4 linked regions of the Homo sapiens genome follow. The protein of the gene in region 1 interacts with the protein of each later gene in a pairwise test. Each region holds a gene or a part of one and is shown in the gene's direction. Other genes may lie near its edges.

What was found.
Region 2: the proteins of TUBA1C (region 1) and SH3GLB1 interact in binary tests that used the Homo sapiens proteins (3 or more experiments, as listed by UniProt).
Region 3: the proteins of TUBA1C (region 1) and TPT1 interact in binary tests that used the Homo sapiens proteins (3 or more experiments, as listed by UniProt).
Region 4: the proteins of TUBA1C (region 1) and PRPF40A interact in binary tests that used the Homo sapiens proteins (3 or more experiments, as listed by UniProt).

Annotation. Positions count from the first base shown.
Region 1 is NC_000012.12:49,270,991-49,275,681, forward strand, and holds the end of TUBA1C (tubulin alpha-1C chain), read left to right. Parts: intron 1-1,262; coding exon 1,263-2,237; 3' UTR 2,238-3,610; downstream 3,611-4,691. UniProt on the Homo sapiens protein: Tubulin is the major constituent of microtubules, a cylinder consisting of laterally associated linear protofilaments composed of alpha- and beta-tubulin heterodimers.
Region 2 is NC_000001.11:86,711,076-86,715,766, forward strand, and holds part of SH3GLB1 (endophilin-B1), read left to right. Parts: intron 1-4,648; coding exon 4,649-4,691. UniProt on the Homo sapiens protein: May be required for normal outer mitochondrial membrane dynamics. Required for coatomer-mediated retrograde transport in certain cells. May recruit other proteins to membranes with high curvature. May promote membrane fusion.
Region 3 is NC_000013.11:45,331,780-45,335,577, reverse strand, and holds the end of TPT1 (translationally-controlled tumor protein), read left to right. Parts: 3' UTR 1-2,107; downstream 2,108-3,798. UniProt on the Homo sapiens protein: Involved in calcium binding and microtubule stabilization. Acts as a negative regulator of TSC22D1-mediated apoptosis, via interaction with and destabilization of TSC22D1 protein.
Region 4 is NC_000002.12:152,675,077-152,679,767, reverse strand, and holds part of PRPF40A (pre-mRNA-processing factor 40 homolog A), read left to right. Parts: intron 1-295; coding exon 296-416; intron 417-658; coding exon 659-712; intron 713-2,292; coding exon 2,293-2,317; intron 2,318-2,988; coding exon 2,989-3,363; intron 3,364-4,691.

The DNA of each region.
Region 1 (4,691 bases):
AAACAAAAAAAACCCTAAGCTTTAGTTATAAGCACTGACTTGGAAAATCAGGGACCTGCCTTTAGGACAAATAAACCTAGTAGCTATTTAGGGTTCTGGAACGTGAGGTTTATTGCCTACCAAAACAATTGCATTTGTCCTTGTCATTACTGTGCTCACAGGAGGCTTAACTGGTGTAATTGGTAGGCGAGAGTCTGCCCTGTGCATTGATCTCATGTAGTTGATGGACCCACAGGCTATAAGGGAGCTGAGTAGAGAATGTTCACAAATCTGAGGCCCATCACTTGGAGAAGCAAGAGTTTACAACAGAATACTTTATTTGGAAGGTCAAAATCATTCCTTCGTAAAGTAGCAGTTTGCTAACCAAAATAGCCCAGTTAGGTGGAGGAAATCCCCAACAACCTGAGGTCTCATGGAATTGTGGTTGTGTCACTTTACCCAAAATAAATGGGCTTCTTGGTACCTAGTGTCATATATTGGCTTACTGGGCCAATACTGTGCTTACTGTGCCAAGCACTATGCTGAGTACTTACTTAATTCTCAACCTAAGGTGATTACTATTCTCACTTAATCAGTGGAAGAACTGAGAAATGAATGTGGTCATACAGTAAGGAACTGGTACAGCCGGATCCTGACACAGCCTGACTCCAGTACCAGGGTGTTAGAACTTTGGCTATTCTGTTGTTCCACCTCAGAAAGCAGCTGCCAAATCTTTACAAGACATCCACTGTACCAGGCTGGTGGTCCTGGGCCTGCCCCTTAGGACCTCTCCAACTAAGAAACTGCCCTGTTCTGTGGCCACAGCAAGAGAACCAGAGGCTGCCTTCCCAGTTACCAAAACTTGAGCCCTGTATGCAAGCCCAGGCCTTGTGATTCCTCTGCCTAAGGCAATAGTTCATCTTAAAATAGTCTTAGCAAAGGTTTTTCTGCTCAAGGACTTGATTGTGAAAAGTTGTTCTGAATCACTTAGCACTTAAAAGCTTTTTTTTTTTTTTGGAGACAGGGTCTGCTCTGTCATCCAGGCTGGAGTGCAGTGGCCTGATCATCAGTCTTGAACCCCTGGGCTCAAATGCAAATGGTCCTCCCACCTTGGACCCCCAAAGTGTTGATTACAGGCGTGAGCCACTGCGCCTGGCCCAGAAGAGTTTTAAAATTGCAATTGGAGTAGCCATAGATTTATAGAAGTCCTCTGTAGGTTTCACCAAATGTGAACACTAAATGAAACTTTCGCAACACTAAAATGAAACTTTTTTATTTTGCAGGCTGACCAGTGCACCGGTCTTCAGGGCTTCTTGGTTTTCCACAGCTTTGGTGGGGGAACTGGTTCTGGGTTCACCTCGCTGCTCATGGAACGTCTCTCAGTTGATTATGGCAAGAAGTCCAAGCTGGAGTTCTCCATTTACCCGGCGCCCCAGGTTTCCACAGCTGTAGTTGAGCCCTACAACTCCATCCTCACCACCCACACCACCCTGGAGCACTCTGATTGTGCCTTCATGGTAGACAATGAGGCCATCTATGACATCTGTCGTAGAAACCTCGATATCGAGCGCCCAACCTACACTAACCTTAACCGCCTTATTAGCCAGATTGTGTCCTCCATCACTGCTTCCCTGAGATTTGATGGAGCCCTGAATGTTGACCTGACAGAATTCCAGACCAACCTGGTGCCCTACCCCCGCATCCACTTCCCTCTGGCCACATATGCCCCTGTCATCTCTGCTGAGAAAGCCTACCACGAACAGCTTACTGTAGCAGAGATCACCAATGCTTGCTTTGAGCCAGCCAACCAGATGGTGAAATGTGACCCTCGCCATGGTAAATACATGGCTTGCTGCCTGTTATACCGTGGTGACGTGGTTCCCAAAGATGTCAATGCTGCCATTGCCACCATCAAAACCAAGCGTACCATCCAGTTTGTGGATTGGTGCCCCACTGGCTTCAAGGTTGGCATTAATTACCAGCCTCCCACTGTGGTGCCTGGCGGAGACCTGGCCAAGGTACAGAGAGCTGTGTGCATGCTGAGCAATACCACAGCTGTTGCCGAGGCCTGGGCTCGCCTGGACCACAAGTTTGACCTGATGTATGCCAAGCGTGCCTTTGTTCACTGGTACGTGGGTGAGGGGATGGAGGAAGGCGAGTTTTCAGAGGCCCGTGAGGACATGGCTGCCCTTGAGAAGGATTATGAGGAGGTTGGAGCAGATAGTGCTGACGGAGAGGATGAGGGTGAAGAGTATTAACCTGTGTGCTGTACTTTTACACTCCTTTGTCTTGGAACTGTCTTATTTTTGTTCTGTAAATGTCTATTGCCGTAAATTGTTAATAAAATTGAAGTTTCCATTTTAAATGTCGAGCTGACTTAAATACTTGATCCAGTTAAAGTTGGATGTATGAGGCTGGTAGATGAAACCACCTGAGTCGAGGGTCTTGCTCTGTCACCCAGGCTGGAGTGCAGTGGCATGATAATACATAGCTCATTGCAGCCTCGAGCTCCTGGACTCATGTGATTCTCCTGCTTCAGCCTCCTAAGTAGCTGGGGACTGCAGGTGCACACCACCATGCCCAGCTATTTTTATTTCTTGTAGAGATGGGGCCTTGCTATGCTGCCCAGGGTGGTCTTCAACTGGCTTCAAGTGATCCTCCTGCCTCAACCTCTCAAAGTTTTGATTATAGGCATGAGCCACTGCCCAGCTTCTTGGTTTATCTGTTTAATTTGGGCCTGAATTAAGTGGTTATAGAATCATTTTGTAAGTGAGGAAACGGGTTCAGATTGAGCCAGTGCTTCTCTAACTAAAATGGATGTGAATCACCTGTAGATATTAAAATGCAGGTTTGGGGTCAACCTGGTGGCTCATGCACTTCGGGAGGCCAAGTTGGGTGGATCACGAGCCCAGGAATTCGAGACCAGCCTGGGCAACATGGTGAAAACCCATCTCTACCAAAACAAAAATTTGCATGCTGTGATGGCACCTGCCTATAGGTGGGAGGACCACCTGAGCCCAAGGAGGTTGAGGTAGTGAGCCATGATTGCACCACTGCATTCCAGCCTGGGTGACGGAGACCCCTGACTCTCAAATTTAAAAACAAAATGCAGGTTCTAATTCTATAGGCTTGAGGTGAGGCTTCAGACACGTCTTAAATTTTTTTTCTTTGAGATGGTCTCTTTCCCAGGCTGCAGTGCAATGGCACCATCATAGCTCACCCCCACCTTGACCTGGGCTAAGCCATCCTCCCACCTCAGCCTCCCAAGTAGCCAGGACTACAGGTGTGTTCCACCATGCCTGGCTGATTCTTGTAATTTTTTTTTTTTTTTTTTTTTTTTTTTTTGGTAGAGATGGGGTTTTGCCATGTTGCTTAGGCTGGCCTTGAACTCCTGGGCTCAGGCAATCCTGCCTCAGCCTCCCAAAGTGCTGGGATTACAGGAGTGAGCCACTACACCTGGCCCCTAGATACGTTTTTTAATAACCTCCCAAATGATGCTGTTGGTCTGATGTGACCACATGTACAGTAGCAAAGGGTTAGATAACAGTAACTGCTGGAGCCAAAATTCAAGTGCCCAGCCACACTGCCAGAACTATTGCTGTCAGTCTTTAATAAAGTATTAGTCACACGAGAAGGGCTTGGAATCCTGATTTATTCCATACTTAGCTAAGACCTACAGTGGCAAAGATGGTTCGTACTAAAGGGGTTATTGTTTAGAGAAAGTGGAAATGTCAGACAAAATAACAGTCACCGGTTTTTCTGGTATTGGCATTTGACCCAATTGTATGTCATGGAGATTATTTGAAGTAGGAGTAATATGTATGTGTAGGAAAGATTGGAGAGGGGTGAGTTCTCTGATTTGGACTTTTTTCCAAGCACCTGTTGGAGGACCGTGGTTCTTGGGGGCAGACGGGTGAAGGGGCATGAGTGTTATACGTAGCTGGAGAGCTTGGTGCCTGGTACTCAGTTGAACTAAGCAATGGGAAAGGACAATGACCAAAAGGTGAAGCTTCATGCAGAAGGGAGGAATCAGTTTTGGTGCTTGGGTGCTTGCCTGAGTGGGAATGCCTAATGAGTGGTAGCAGATGGGCCCTGGGGGCAGAGTTGCAGGCATACTCACCTCTCCTCCGTGACTTACTTTATTCTGATGTGTACCCAGTTACCATCTCTTTCCCAAAGGTGTTTTGTATCCCTTACCCATTGCTCACTTTAGCCCCTTTGCTCTGAGAATTGCATCTGAAAGATGTGCATGTTTAAGGCCAGCGCTGGGGTTCACAGCTGCAGTCCCAGCACTCTGGGAGGCCAAGGTGAGAGGATTGCTTAAACCCAAGAGTCTGAGACCAGTGCCTGGGCAAGAGGGTGAGACCCTGTCTATTTTGAGCATTTTTTTGGCCGGGTACCATGGCTCACGCCTGTAATCCCGGCACTTTGGGAGGCTGAAGCAGGTGGATCACTTGAGCTTAGGAGTTCAAGACCAGCCTGGGCAATATGGTGAAACCCCATCTCTACTAAAAATACAAACAATTAGCTGGGCATGGTGGTGCACGTCTGTGGTCCCAGCTGCTTGAGAGGCTGAAGTGGGAGGATTGCTTGAGCCTGGGAGGTGGAGGTAGCAGTGAGCTGAGATCGTGCCACTGCCCTCCAGCCTAAGGGACAAAAAATTTTTTTCCCTTAAATTTTTTTTTATGTCTCAAATTTTTTTAAATGTATAT
Region 2 (4,691 bases), on another chromosome or scaffold:
TGCACCTTACAGTTTACTAATACATTATTCAGAATCTGTGTTACATATTTTCCAAGAAATTTAAATTACTTTTAGAGTATTACCCTTTAGTAATACTGGTGATTAGAGTTTGCATTAAATAGATGTCTTTGATCACACACCCATTTTATTTGTAGTCTTTTTTTTTTCTAAAAGTAGAGTTTGGAATCCAGGCTCCTTATTTAATAATGTGGGTTATATGCCTATCCTGTAGTAAAAGAAGGATTACAGTGCCTGGTATAATGTAGCCGACTCAAAGACAATTCTTTCCGCAAAGCAATATTTAGAGAAAATATATAAAAGGGGATTAAACTTTTATTCTTATGCCACTTTGCCATATTACAAATGAAATATGAAAAAATTAGGTATCAAATTATATTTTAGAAAACATTGAGTTTAATGACTTACTAAGAAGATGCTTATTTACAGTTTGCCTTTTATTTTAGGTTGTTTACACAAAAGTTCTTAATTATTAAACTATACTGCCATCTATTCATTAAAAGATATGCTTAAAATCAACTAGTTTCTCATTAATACCTATTATCAAGAGATTACAAAATCAGTAATGATTTTTGACTTGAAGATGTTGAAAACTAAAATTTTTATGGGTTAATTTAAAATTTTTTGGTAACTAGGAAAGGGATCTTTTTTTAAAAGAAAGAATTAATAGGTCTTTTGCCCTTCTGAAAAGGTGCCATTATTATAATTTTGTTTGAGTCAAGGCAGTATTCTCCTAGTAGATCATAAAATCCTTGAGGGCAAGAAGTACATCAGATGCTGATCATCTTGCTGTAGAAGCCATAAATATTTTTGATTAGTAATTTAAATATTAATTTAGTTGAGATGACTCCTAGTGTCTGTAGTAGACGCATTATTTACAGTGCTTTAGAGAAAATGTATTAAATATTGTATTTGTTATCTTAATAAAGTGTACTTCTGATTAATTATGGAAAAATCCTTTTGCTTCCACCAATGATAAAATTTGGGAAATATTATGTCTTTTACAATTATATATTTAAGTAATAAGATTTAAATTTATAATTTCAATTTTAAAATATGATAGCATTAGCAATGTCCTTATTGTGTGTCTTCCTCCCTTTTATTCATTCATGATAGGATTTAGTTTACTAATTTTGGTGAATAATTATTGAATATCTTGTAGAAAGCAGAAGTGATCTGGGGGAGAAAGCTGTCCAGAGTGCTGCGAACAGACATAGGAGAAAGGAAGCACAGAATATGATTGGATAATAGTAATAGAAATAGAAAATACTAATTTTGGAAATCAGCAAGTATTTACTGGAAGGGTAGTATAGCATGATAAGACTATGACTCAAACAGATGTGAGATTGAATCCCAACAATGACACCTTGGACAAAGTGTTTAATCACCCTGAGTCTCAATTTATTAATCTCTACAATTATTCTTACTTTATTTTAAGATTCTTTCGAGTATTTGTTGTAGAATGCACAGCTTAGTTAATGGAATTTTTGAACATACACTAAGCCTTGACACAGAAGTATGAGAAAGATGTAAATGGATGTGCTGAAATGTGAAACATAGAAACATTGTCATGTGACCCTACAGTACTGCTATTTTCTAAACAGGTTTTCTGTAATTAGACTGTCTCACTCATGTGTAAGGGTTCCATGTATCTTCTGAACTAAAATAGTTAAAAAAAAAAAACCTACTAATTGTGTGTGTTTGTAGAATCTTTATCAGTTAACATATTTTCTTTCTTCCTCAGACTCATACAAATAAATCACTTGGTGCAAATACCCATCTTTGCTCTGTTATACTTTCATACTCTTTTCAAAAAGAATATATATTTATTGAGATACCTGGGAGGTAGTATCATGAGAGTCACAAAGAAAATGTTAAATAATTAAGCAAACAGGCCTTTTTACCTGAAGATTGAAGTGTTTTATTTTCCAAATAATTAACTTTCTAATTGCTGATTTTCCTGAAATACTGTCGGGAGAAAACTTGCCCTGAACCCCAGTTTGTATCAGATAAATTCAGTGACTATTTTATTTTATATTTATTTATTTTATTATTAACTTATTAATTAGAGATAGGGTCTTGCTGTGTCACCCAGAATGGAGTGCAGTGGAGTGCAGCTGGGACTACAGGTGTGCACCACCATACCTGGCTAATTTTTTGGATTTTTTTGTAGAGACGTGGTTTCGCCATGTTGCCTAGGCTGGTCTAGAACTCCTGAGCTCAAGTGATCTGCCTGCCTCAGCCTCCCAAAGTGCTGACATTACAGGCGGGGGCCCCTGCTCCTGGCCATAAGTACTGATTTTGAATTATTGATCTGTTGATTTTTCTATTAATCTATTCTTGGTTATTAACTATAAGTTAAGGATTTCCACAGAGAAATTAATATTTAATATGTGTGAGGGTGATGCTAATGAGCTTAAAGAAATTGTGCAACTGGAAGATAAATCATCAGGACTATACACTCTTTCCTTAGATCTTAACATAGTTCATATCATTCAGTCACAGGTCGTTTGTTACCTACTCAGAGATGCTGTTTCTCTAACTACCCGCATCTCACACTCCTCAAACTCCTGCTCCCCTTTCTAGGCCCAAGTTGCCCATCCCTCCCCCACTGAAGCCTTCCCTGATTCTCCTGCTCTCCCTCTTCCTCTCCCTGAAGAATGAATTCTTTCTCTGTACTTGGATTTGTATGTCACTCAGAAACAAACCAACCATGTTGGTCCGCTTTACCATCTTCATATCTTTATATCCTTATTATCAGATTATTTATTTATCTATTGTCTGTCTTTGCCATTAAAATGTAAGCTTCCTAAGAACAGAAACCTTATATGTTTTGTTGGCTGCTGAAACCCATGTGTTTAGAAGAGTGCCTAGCACATATGTAGGTGCTTAATAAGTATTTGTTGAAGGAATAAACAAAATGAACAAACAAATGGATAAACTTGCTTATTAAAGGGAAATTTATGCATGCAGTTTCAATTTTTAAGGGGCTAAGTGAATTTTTTTTAGATCACTCTTTATAGGTGATGTTCACCTGAGTGAAAGGTATTCCCTTTCTTCCCTTCCTATTGGTCACTTTATCTGGGAGTTATTTTATCTAGCCATTGGTGGTAGACTTTGAACATGTAAAAGTCTAGTAGGAGGTCTGTTGCTTAGAATCTTCAGGGATCTGTAAAGACTACGGGGTTCTCTGTTAAGAATGAGGTTGCATAGTTTATCCAGCTGGCCTTGGGATCAGGGTTTGCTTTTGCTCAGTGCCCAGTCCTCCAGCTACACTGCAAGTTTATGGGCTTAGGCAATAGCTTTGTAACTGCTATTTTTGGTTCTACCCACTAGGTCAGGGGCTGGCTATAGACCATTCTCAAAAAGACCCAAGGCTTTACAAAAGCTATTTAAGCTGTTATTTCTAGCCCCTAAACAGGAGCCTCAGTGGAGATTGTAACCAGAAGTCTAAGAATAGAATTCTAGAGGATCCTTCAGCTTAAGGTGTTGATAATAACCTGAAAGTATTAAACCAAGAAGAAGGATGCTGAAAGAAACAATAAAACTCAGAAAATAGAGTAGCAAACGAGATTTTTGAGAAACGAAAGGAGAGAAAGGCAAGGTGAACACTGTTTTGTCAGCCAGAAGTGAGTCATTACTGAGCACAGAATTAATGCTAGTGATATACCTGTGTTAAGATGGGAGGAAGCCACATATTCTAGAGGAAAATGATGCATGATAAACAGCTTGAGTCATCACCTCTAATGTTTAATTAAAAGTATCCAGAAGGCTGTAGATCTACACAGAATCTTTTTACTGCTTTATTATTATATAGGCAGTGCTACCTTTTCTCAAATACCAGTATATTCAATAATAAAAATTGATTCATTGAGTACGTTTAACCACATTTTATGACCTTTAAAAGATGTCTTCATAGTATGAATAGGATATGTTCCAAAAGTTAGTCTATAAATAAATTGCTGGAACATATCCTCAGCAGCTTAAATGACAGGTTTTATGGTATGTTCTGGGAAACTATTTATCTAACTAGGTGTGATTAAAGTGCTAATAAGACATAAACCACAATAAACATTAACAGCTCTTTCAAAACTTAATAATTACAAGGCACCAAACAAAGTGATTTGCATACACAATCATACTTAATCCCCCAAACACTATAAAATATGTATTGTCTCTCTTTTATAATAGAGGGTACTAAAGAAAAAATATTCAATACATTGCTCAGCTCACACAGCAAGGAACAAAGTTAAGATTTGAATTCAGATTCAACTGACTCAAAGCTCTTACTCTTTACCGTTATCCTAGTCTACCTAGGATAGGTAGTTGAAATAGTTGCATGCTTTATATACCAAGAAGTATACTTAGGTTTTCTGTAGAATTCACACCATACATTTTAGCAGAACTAAGGGTATGTGATGACTGTAAGGTAGGGTCATCCACAAAAGAAGTATGGATAAATTACCATAGGAGCAAAAAAAAGTATTCATAAGCAATGGCTTACAAAGCTGGAGCATGGTTATTTGTATGTTTAGGATTGTTTAGCTTTGAATTTGCTTTTTACTTATTGATATGGTTCCCTAAAATTTATTTGCAGTATATTTAATTTTTGTTTTACAATCAATAACAGTTCACAGAAGAAAAGCTTGGCCAGGCTGAGAAGACAGAATTGG
Region 3 (3,798 bases), on another chromosome or scaffold:
TGTCCTCTGAAATGATAGCAGGAAGGGAATTTTCAGGCAGTGGTCAAAGCTGGGGAAACCAGGATAGTGAAGAAGGCCTTGAGGTGAGAGATGGAAGCTAATTGGTGAACTAGCCTTGGAAGCCTGAAACAGACAAGTAGCAATTCAGAGACTTTGTGGGCTCCACTGCTCCAACTTGTTTTGAAGATTTTCAGTTCTGCAGAAGAGGTATTTCCCCAGTTGTCCTTTCAGTGCTCTTAGCTGTTTTCCCAACATCCAGATCCAATCAAGGCTGGGACATAGCATTTTATCATGTCTATTTAAGTCAGAAGTGATGAACCCCAGCTGTTTACCTCATGGTAAACCTTTGAAGATTCCAGGTAGAATCTTCTCAGACTTTGAAGACTGTCTCATTTTATATCTTTTTCTCGTTATTCCTAGGGTCAAGACGTTTTGGGCAAGAATAAGGATGTGAACATCAGAAAGCTCATAACATTTTGTTTTTGATGCTAAGTTTAACAAAGGCATGCTTTAGTAGCCTGTGGGCCCTAGGGTTTGTTAAAGTGTGGAGAACAACTGAGTGGAGCAAGAGGACTTTTCTAGGAAGGTCCTTGTAATGTGACATTTGAAAACAAATGAAGGTGTGGAAGTAGGCCATGTGGATATCAGGACAAACCATTCCAGGCCAAGACAACAGCAGTTAGTCTGGAGTGTGATGTGTTCTGGGAAAAAAGTGGCCACTTTGCTAACCCAAGAAGACAGGAAGGGTTGTAAAGCAGTGGGAGTGTGCAAGGAAGGAAGACCAGACCTCAAGGAAACCACAGGCGCTCTGAGCAGAAGAGTTACATGATATGACTCAAATTTTTAAAGGATCACTTTGGCTGCCAGGTGGCAGGGTAAAAGCATAGAATAATTGTGTATAATGTGTTTTTAAGGCAAAGATAGTGGCTTAGTCTAGGGTAGTAGACTGAGGTGGTAGGAAATGAAGATAGAGACAACAGGATATGCTGGTGGGTGAGGATGGATTTAATGTTGATACAAGTATTTTGGTCTGAGCGTTTGGAAGAAAGTTGGCACTGAGGTGGGAAGTCGAGTTTAGTTTTGTTAGTTTTGGATGTGTTAAGTTTGAGATGCTGATTCTTCAGAGAAGTCTAAGCTGGAGAACTATATAGAGAGTGGAAAGATAACAATAGACATTGAAAGCCATGATACAGGATAAGGTCATTTGGAGAGAGGATAGACTGCATTCCAACATGAGATTGGTTGACAAAGAGAAACCAACAAAGGTAATTAAGAGGTGCTCCCACTGCACTTGTACTCAGAAGGCTGAGGTAGGATTGTTAGAGGCCAGCCTGGGCACCACAGGGAGACCCCATCTCTAAAATTTAGCCAGGAACCATGGCTCATGCCTGTAGCCCCAGGAATTTGGGAGGCTGAGTGGGGAGGATCGCTTGAGGTCAGGAGTTTGAGACCAGCCTGGGCAACATAGGGAGACCTAAAAAAATTAATTGGGCATCTGTAGTCCCAGCTACTCAGGCGGCTGAGCTGAGAGGATGGCTTGAGTCCGAGAGATTGAGGGTGCAGTGAGCTGTGATCATACCACTGCACTCCAGCCTGGGCGGCAGTGAGACACTATCTGAAAAAAGTTTAAAAATTTTAAAAAAGAAGGAACTGCCCCTGAGGTAAGAACCAAGGGAGGGCCTCCCAGAGGTCAGGTGGAAAAAGTTTTAGGAAGGAGGAAGTAGTCAACAGGGTTACCTGTTGCAAAGTACTTAAGTAATATGAGGCCTGATAGTGGTAAACTTGACTACCGTTGGATTTCACTAGTGGGAAAGGAAGTCTAATTAAAATGCACTCAAGAGACTAACAGTCGCAGGCATGAAATACAATACAGGTACATGGTTTTTTATTATGTGTGCATCTGCTTCAGTAATAGGTGTGAATTACTCATTTGGATCATTAGGAGTTTCAAAATCTAGTTAAATGACTAGATTTTTGTTGATGTAAATTCTGTCATTCTGAACTGCAGGGATTGTCAGTAACTTAACTGCAAACTAAACTGGTGATAATTATGGTAAAATTGCAAGACGAGCAATAAATCTCAACCAACTTGAGAGAACACTGATAACAAAGCATCCTTAAGGTTATATGTGTGTGCACACAGGTGGAGTGGAATGACTGGCTGGCAGCAGAATACTCAGTAAAATGGAACTAAAACCAGGAGGATTTACTAATTTACAACTAGTATAGTGATCAGTAATTTACAACTAGTAGGTCACTACTAAAGAGCTCCAGCTTTGTGGCAATTAGCATGTGTTTCTAGAGACTATCCATAAGAACTGTGAGTGCAACTTGAAGTTTCTGGAAACATTTAATATTTCATTATTCCGAAGGAAAAGGCCTTGATTAAAGTGTTTTTAACATAAGCAAGTAAAGTAAAAGGTGCCATAGCTAGGCAGTGGCTCATACCTGTAATCCCAACTACTTGGGAGGCTGAGGAGGGAGAATCGCTTGAGCCCAGGAGTTTGAGCTTGGAGCGAGTTAATGGCTGCAATACTGCACTCCAGCCTTGGTAATAGAGGGAGGTCTTGTCTCTTGAAAGAGAAAGGTGCCACATACCTTCCATTGAATAAAAGTTGGCTGCTATGCTAGCCATCTCAATTAGCTACACTCTAAATGTGGAGCTTGCAGATAAGTTAAAAATCATAATAGTGCTGATAGTTTCTATTTACCTCACTTAAATCCTCCAAGTCTATCCCTTAATCAATGCAGCAATGATAAATCAGGCCCCTGTGCATGTCAGCAGTTCAAAACAGATTTTACTACTGTAGGGGCATATTTTTAACTACCAGAACATTCCAGTTTATTTTTTGAGAGCCTGTAGATTTGTGCGGTTACACATAGTTTCATATAATTGAGCCTGGAAGTTGGCATTGAAGTTTCCTCCATATGCTGGGCCATGAGAACCTTTGGGAGTGGATGTGGCTTTAGCTGGAGTCAATACAATTCAATGAGAGAAACATCAGATATGAGTTTAGGGGAAGATTCTTGCCAAAATAACTTGTGCAATGATGTTTCCCTCAATTACTTTCTCCTCCATTCATTTATGTATGCATTCCACTCTTCTCTGAGTCCAGAGGTAGAGCAAGGAGCACAAACTGGGAAGAACACTGCAGTGCTGTTTTGTGTGTGAGTCACAATCTACAGACAAAGGAAAATTGAGACATCAAGGGACTCACTGGAGGGGCCCTCTGGGACACAAGCCACAATTATTAGTCAAGAGTTATAACACAGTGTTTTTAATAATAGGACAGTAGAGCTACTGGCTACCATTTAGTCCTGAGTTTCTGGGTTTTTTTTTTTTTTTTTGTGGGGGAGCGGGGGGAAGTCAGGGTCTTGCTATGTTGCTGGAACTAATCTCAAACTCCTGGCCTCAAGTGATCCTCCTGCCTTTGCCTCCCAAAGTGCTGGGATTACAGGCATGAGCTACCACACCTAGTTACTAGAAATCTAGTTGTTGGCCAGATGTGGTGACTCACACCTATAATCCCAGCACTTTGGGAGGCTGACGCGGTCAGAGCACTTGAGCTCAGGAGTTTGAGACCAGTCTGGACAACATGGTGAAAGCCCATCTCTATAAAAAATAGAAAAAAAAAATCTACTTGTATAATTGCTGATTTTCTCCACATGTAAAGGAAGCAGATAAGCCCTAGTTTATTATCAATTGCGGCTTGCACATGACCTCATCTAGAGCACAGGGTTATCAAATTATTCTACTGTTCCCTAAGCAGTTGGTATAAAATTGGTATTTTCTGGACA
Region 4 (4,691 bases), on another chromosome or scaffold:
GAATCTTGTCTCTGCTTTTTAATGAGTATATTACCTTAAACAAGTTACTTTCTGACTTCAAGTAACAGTCCCTAGATACAGAATTATGTTACACATTTTGCAGTGTTATAAAGATTAAATAATGTATTCAAATGGCATCACTCAGTGAATATTCAATAATTGATAGTTTATATTATTACCATCATCTCACGAGTTTTAGAATTGTATCAATTGGTAATTTCTAGTGAAAACAGCCATGTAAATGATCAGTGATGTTAAATATATTATTATTAACAAACAGTTTTTTCCTTTTCAGCAACTCTTATCTAAATGCCCCTGGAAGGAATACAAATCAGATTCTGGAAAGCCTTACTATTATAATTCTCAAACAAAAGAATCTCGCTGGGCCAAACCTAAAGAACTTGAGGATCTTGAAGGTAAAATGGGGAAAAGTAGTTTTCAATGTATATGTTTTACATATATATGCCATTCACTTTGAAACAATTCCTCCAGAATAGGATTGTTCAAACAAAGGCCTTATTTTTTTTTTTAATTAAATGATTAGAACATTTAAAATGGCGTATAACAGTTTTTTGGGCTCTTATTTTCTTGTTGCTTTAGATCTCAGTTCTGTAGATTTTAAATAGATTTTTATTTGATTTGATTCCACTGAAACTAGGATACCAGAATACCATTGTTGCTGGAAGTCTTATTACAAAATCAAACCTGCATGGTGAGCTGCTTTGATAATTCATTTTCTGTCATACTTAACATTTTTATTAGAGTATGTCACTAATATTCACTAACCATAATTGGATAAATCTGCAGTGAAAAATCTCTAAGAATTCTTTTCATTAAAGGGTTATATTATAAATGAGCTTGTAGCTTTTAAAGTCGTACTTTGGTTTTTAGAAAAAAGATCGTTTATCATTCAATTGAACAAGGAGTTCATATACAAAATTTCCAAGTCCTACTATGAGTGGTGCATACATAGAACATGTGTTTTAACTCATTTCATGGTAATAGATAGTGGAGAACCTTGAATCTGTATCCATTTATATTTTGTTAGTATATTGTCAGACTATATATTTAATGCTAGTTTTGTTTAGCACAGTGTTGCAAAATAGCCTTGATATGTTCTTTATGGAAGAATTAAGGTAAACCAAGTATCATGCCTTACTTATAAAGGGAAAATTTTTCAACATTGGAACTAATCAGAATAACCCTTAAAAATCTAGAAATACTTAATACTAAATATAAAACCTAAGACTTAAAATAGAGATAATAAGTAAGGATTGAAAATCTAGTTTTTATACTCACTTCTAATAGAATCTAGTGTCATAAATTATACAAAACTAGAAGCAGCAGATTGTAGGAGAATGGGGCTAATAAAGTAGATAGTGATGTGGAATGACATCTGGCAGGAAAAGAGAATAAAAATTTCCTAAAAGACTGTCATATTAAGCCCCTTTACCTTTTCCTTGTGCCACCTCATTAGATAGATAGATCATCATTGTATCAGAAAAATGTTAATTTATATTATTAATGATAACTTTGTAAGTATGTTTTTTCAGCCATCCTAAACAGATTTTCAGAAATGTTTTTCTTTAAAGGGTGATAAGTTTTAAAAATTTTTTTTATAAAGAGTTAGGCTTGTATTATTACTTAATGTGGAGAACCTCATTCCCTAGTAATGTTAAATAAAAGGTATTTTTGTTACATCCAAAGGAAAATGTACTGGAATGAAAAATGAAATTGTGCAGATCTTTAAAGCTCAGTTTAAGTTACCTATACTAGCATTGGCTAATAATAATATTGTAGATAGGTAGATTCCCAGTTGATCATTTATGAATTATCAAGCTCATTTCTGATATAACCCTACTACAAATAGTTGGTGTGCGTAACTATCTATCTACTTGTCAATGCTAGTATATATGTGCTGGAATTTTATAATAAATTTGATCCCATTTTGAATTTAGTATCTTAAAAATATATCAAACTAGTCTCATCCCTGAAGAAAATACAGTTTTCATCCAGAATTATGCAGATACTTTCATAGAGTTGTTGCAGCAGCCTTTGGGAAAGCAGCAGCATGGAATAAGCTTTCCTAGTAATTACTGTTATTTAAGTTTGTTGTATTCTTTATTTGCTATACTAGACTTTCGGAGCAAGAATTTGTTCTGTAAAAGTGATTTTTTATTTTTTAGGATGGTAAATGAAATCCTATTGTATGATACTTTATCTTCTTTTAAAGTTTGTTTTCAGTGATTATATTTTAAAACTAGTAGATGACTTTTTTTCTCTCTTTAATAGCAATGATCAAAGCTGAAGAAAGCAGGTAAGCAATTTTGGACATCAATTTTTATTTACAAATTTGGTCTCTCCTATGATATCCTTGTGTTTTCTCAATTTTCATAATACAAATAATTAACATGTTAGGCTTGATATTTTGATGTCCTTGTAGCATTTTGTTGAGGAAAAATTAGGGAGGGGGATATTTACTCAATTTGATGTTTTGCTATACAGTAATTATTAGAATTTGGACTGTATCCCTTAACAAATTAAGAAGACTGTGTTACAGAAGAGTCCCAAATTCCGTTTGAGTTGATTAGGGAATGGACGAAATATATCTGTGTATCTCTTCCTTTATATAGGGTTTCCTCTAAATGGGCAAACTGGAGAAAATTTAAAGTTCTTAGAGAACTTTCTAATACAGGTCATTTTTCGTGGTGTAAATACAGTCTGATAGATTGGGTATTTTATAAATGTGAACGCTTACTGAACTTTTGAGTGCCTGTAATACATTACCATGAATGTTAACGGAATTAAAGTAGTACAGTTACATTCTGTGGTTTTAAAATCTTTTTTAATGGGCTTGGCATTTCTTGCCGTTTTTTCCTTCAATTATTTTTCTTATTATTTGATTTTATGACCATTTTAAAGCTACCTTTATTTAGCTTTCTGATTACAATAATGAAATGACCAGTGTTCTCTTTTTTTAATGTATAGTAAGCAAGAAGAGTGCACCACAACATCAACAGCCCCAGTCCCTACAACAGAAATTCCGACCACAATGAGCACCATGGCTGCTGCCGAAGCAGCAGCTGCTGTTGTTGCAGCAGCAGCAGCGGCAGCAGCAGCAGCAGCTGCAGCCAATGCTAATGCTTCCACTTCTGCTTCTAATACTGTCAGTGGAACTGTTCCAGTTGTTCCTGAGCCTGAAGTTACTTCCATTGTTGCTACTGTTGTAGATAATGAGAATACAGTAACTATTTCAACTGAGGAACAAGCACAACTTACTAGTACCCCTGCTATTCAGGATCAAAGTGTGGAAGTATCCAGTAATACTGGAGAAGAAACATCTAAGCAAGAAACTGTAGCTGAGTAAGTTTAGTAACTTGTCTTCTGAAAATCAGTACCAGATTGCATTAAATAAAAGTAATTGCCAGTTTAGTTAGTGGCCATTAATAGTTTAAATAAATTTTTTTGAGAATCGTAATATCACCGTTAAGACAGTTGATCAGTTTTCAGGCCGAATTTTGGAGGGTTATGCCAGCAAACTTGAAAAATAGTTCAGTGAAATTTTAACAAGTAGAGCCAAGGCTAGGGAGTTGGGGCACAAATCTAAAAGATTGCCAAAAACCTTAGTAAGCAAGATACATCATATTTTGATGCAATATTTTACATCAGATCAGTGCAAAAATTCATGATTAACAAACTATCAGTATTTTCAGTTAAGACAGGTGTATTGTTTCTTCTTTGGTTATTGGTGTTTTGGGTTTCAACCTCCTATAAATCAGTTAAAAAAATACAGCTTTGTAGAAAAATGAATTATGGGGGAAAAAAAAGCAGTTTATGGCTGGGCATGGTGGCTCACACCTGTAATCCCAGCACTTTGGGAGGATGAGGCAGGAGGATCACTTGAGGCCAAGAGTTTAATATCAACGTGGGCAACATAACAAGACTCTGTCTCTACAAAAAATTTAAAAATTAGCCAGCACTTGTAACCTCAGCTACTGAGGAGGCTGAGGCAGGAGGATCACTTGAGCCTAGGATTTCAAGGCTGCAGTGAGCTATGATTGCACCGCTGCACTCCATCCTGGGTGAGACAGCAAGGCCACCCTGTCTCTCTTTTTTTTTTCTTTTTTTTTTTTTGGCACAGGGTCTCCCTCTGTCACCCAGGCTGGAGTGCAGTGACGTGATCAGGGCTCACTGCATCCTCGACCTCCTGGCCTCAAGCGATTCTCCCATCTCAGCCTCCTCCTGAGTAGCTGGGACTACAGGCACACACACCATGCCTAGCTCATTGGCCTGCCTCAGCGTGCCAAAATGCTGGGATTATAGGTGCGAGCCACTCCACCTGGCCAAGGAAAAAAGGCAATTTACAGAGAAAGAAAGTTGTCTAGGAAGTATATGAAAAGCCATTCAGCCATAATAATAAAGAAATACAAGTTAAAATAATACTGTGATTATTTTTCTAAGTGAAAGTCAAGTAGAGAAACATTTAAAAGATAACACCAGATACAAGAAAACTCTCTTTTCACTCTTAGTGAGACTATAGTAATACAACTTTTTAATAAAGCAAAGCTGTTATCTGTCAGAGTTCACGGTTTGTGTGTACTTGCATACCCTGTAGTCTAGTACATTTTATATGGCTATGCTTTATAGAGCTTTAGAAAGTGAGGTCAAGCTAAATTTCTTGACTTTAAGGG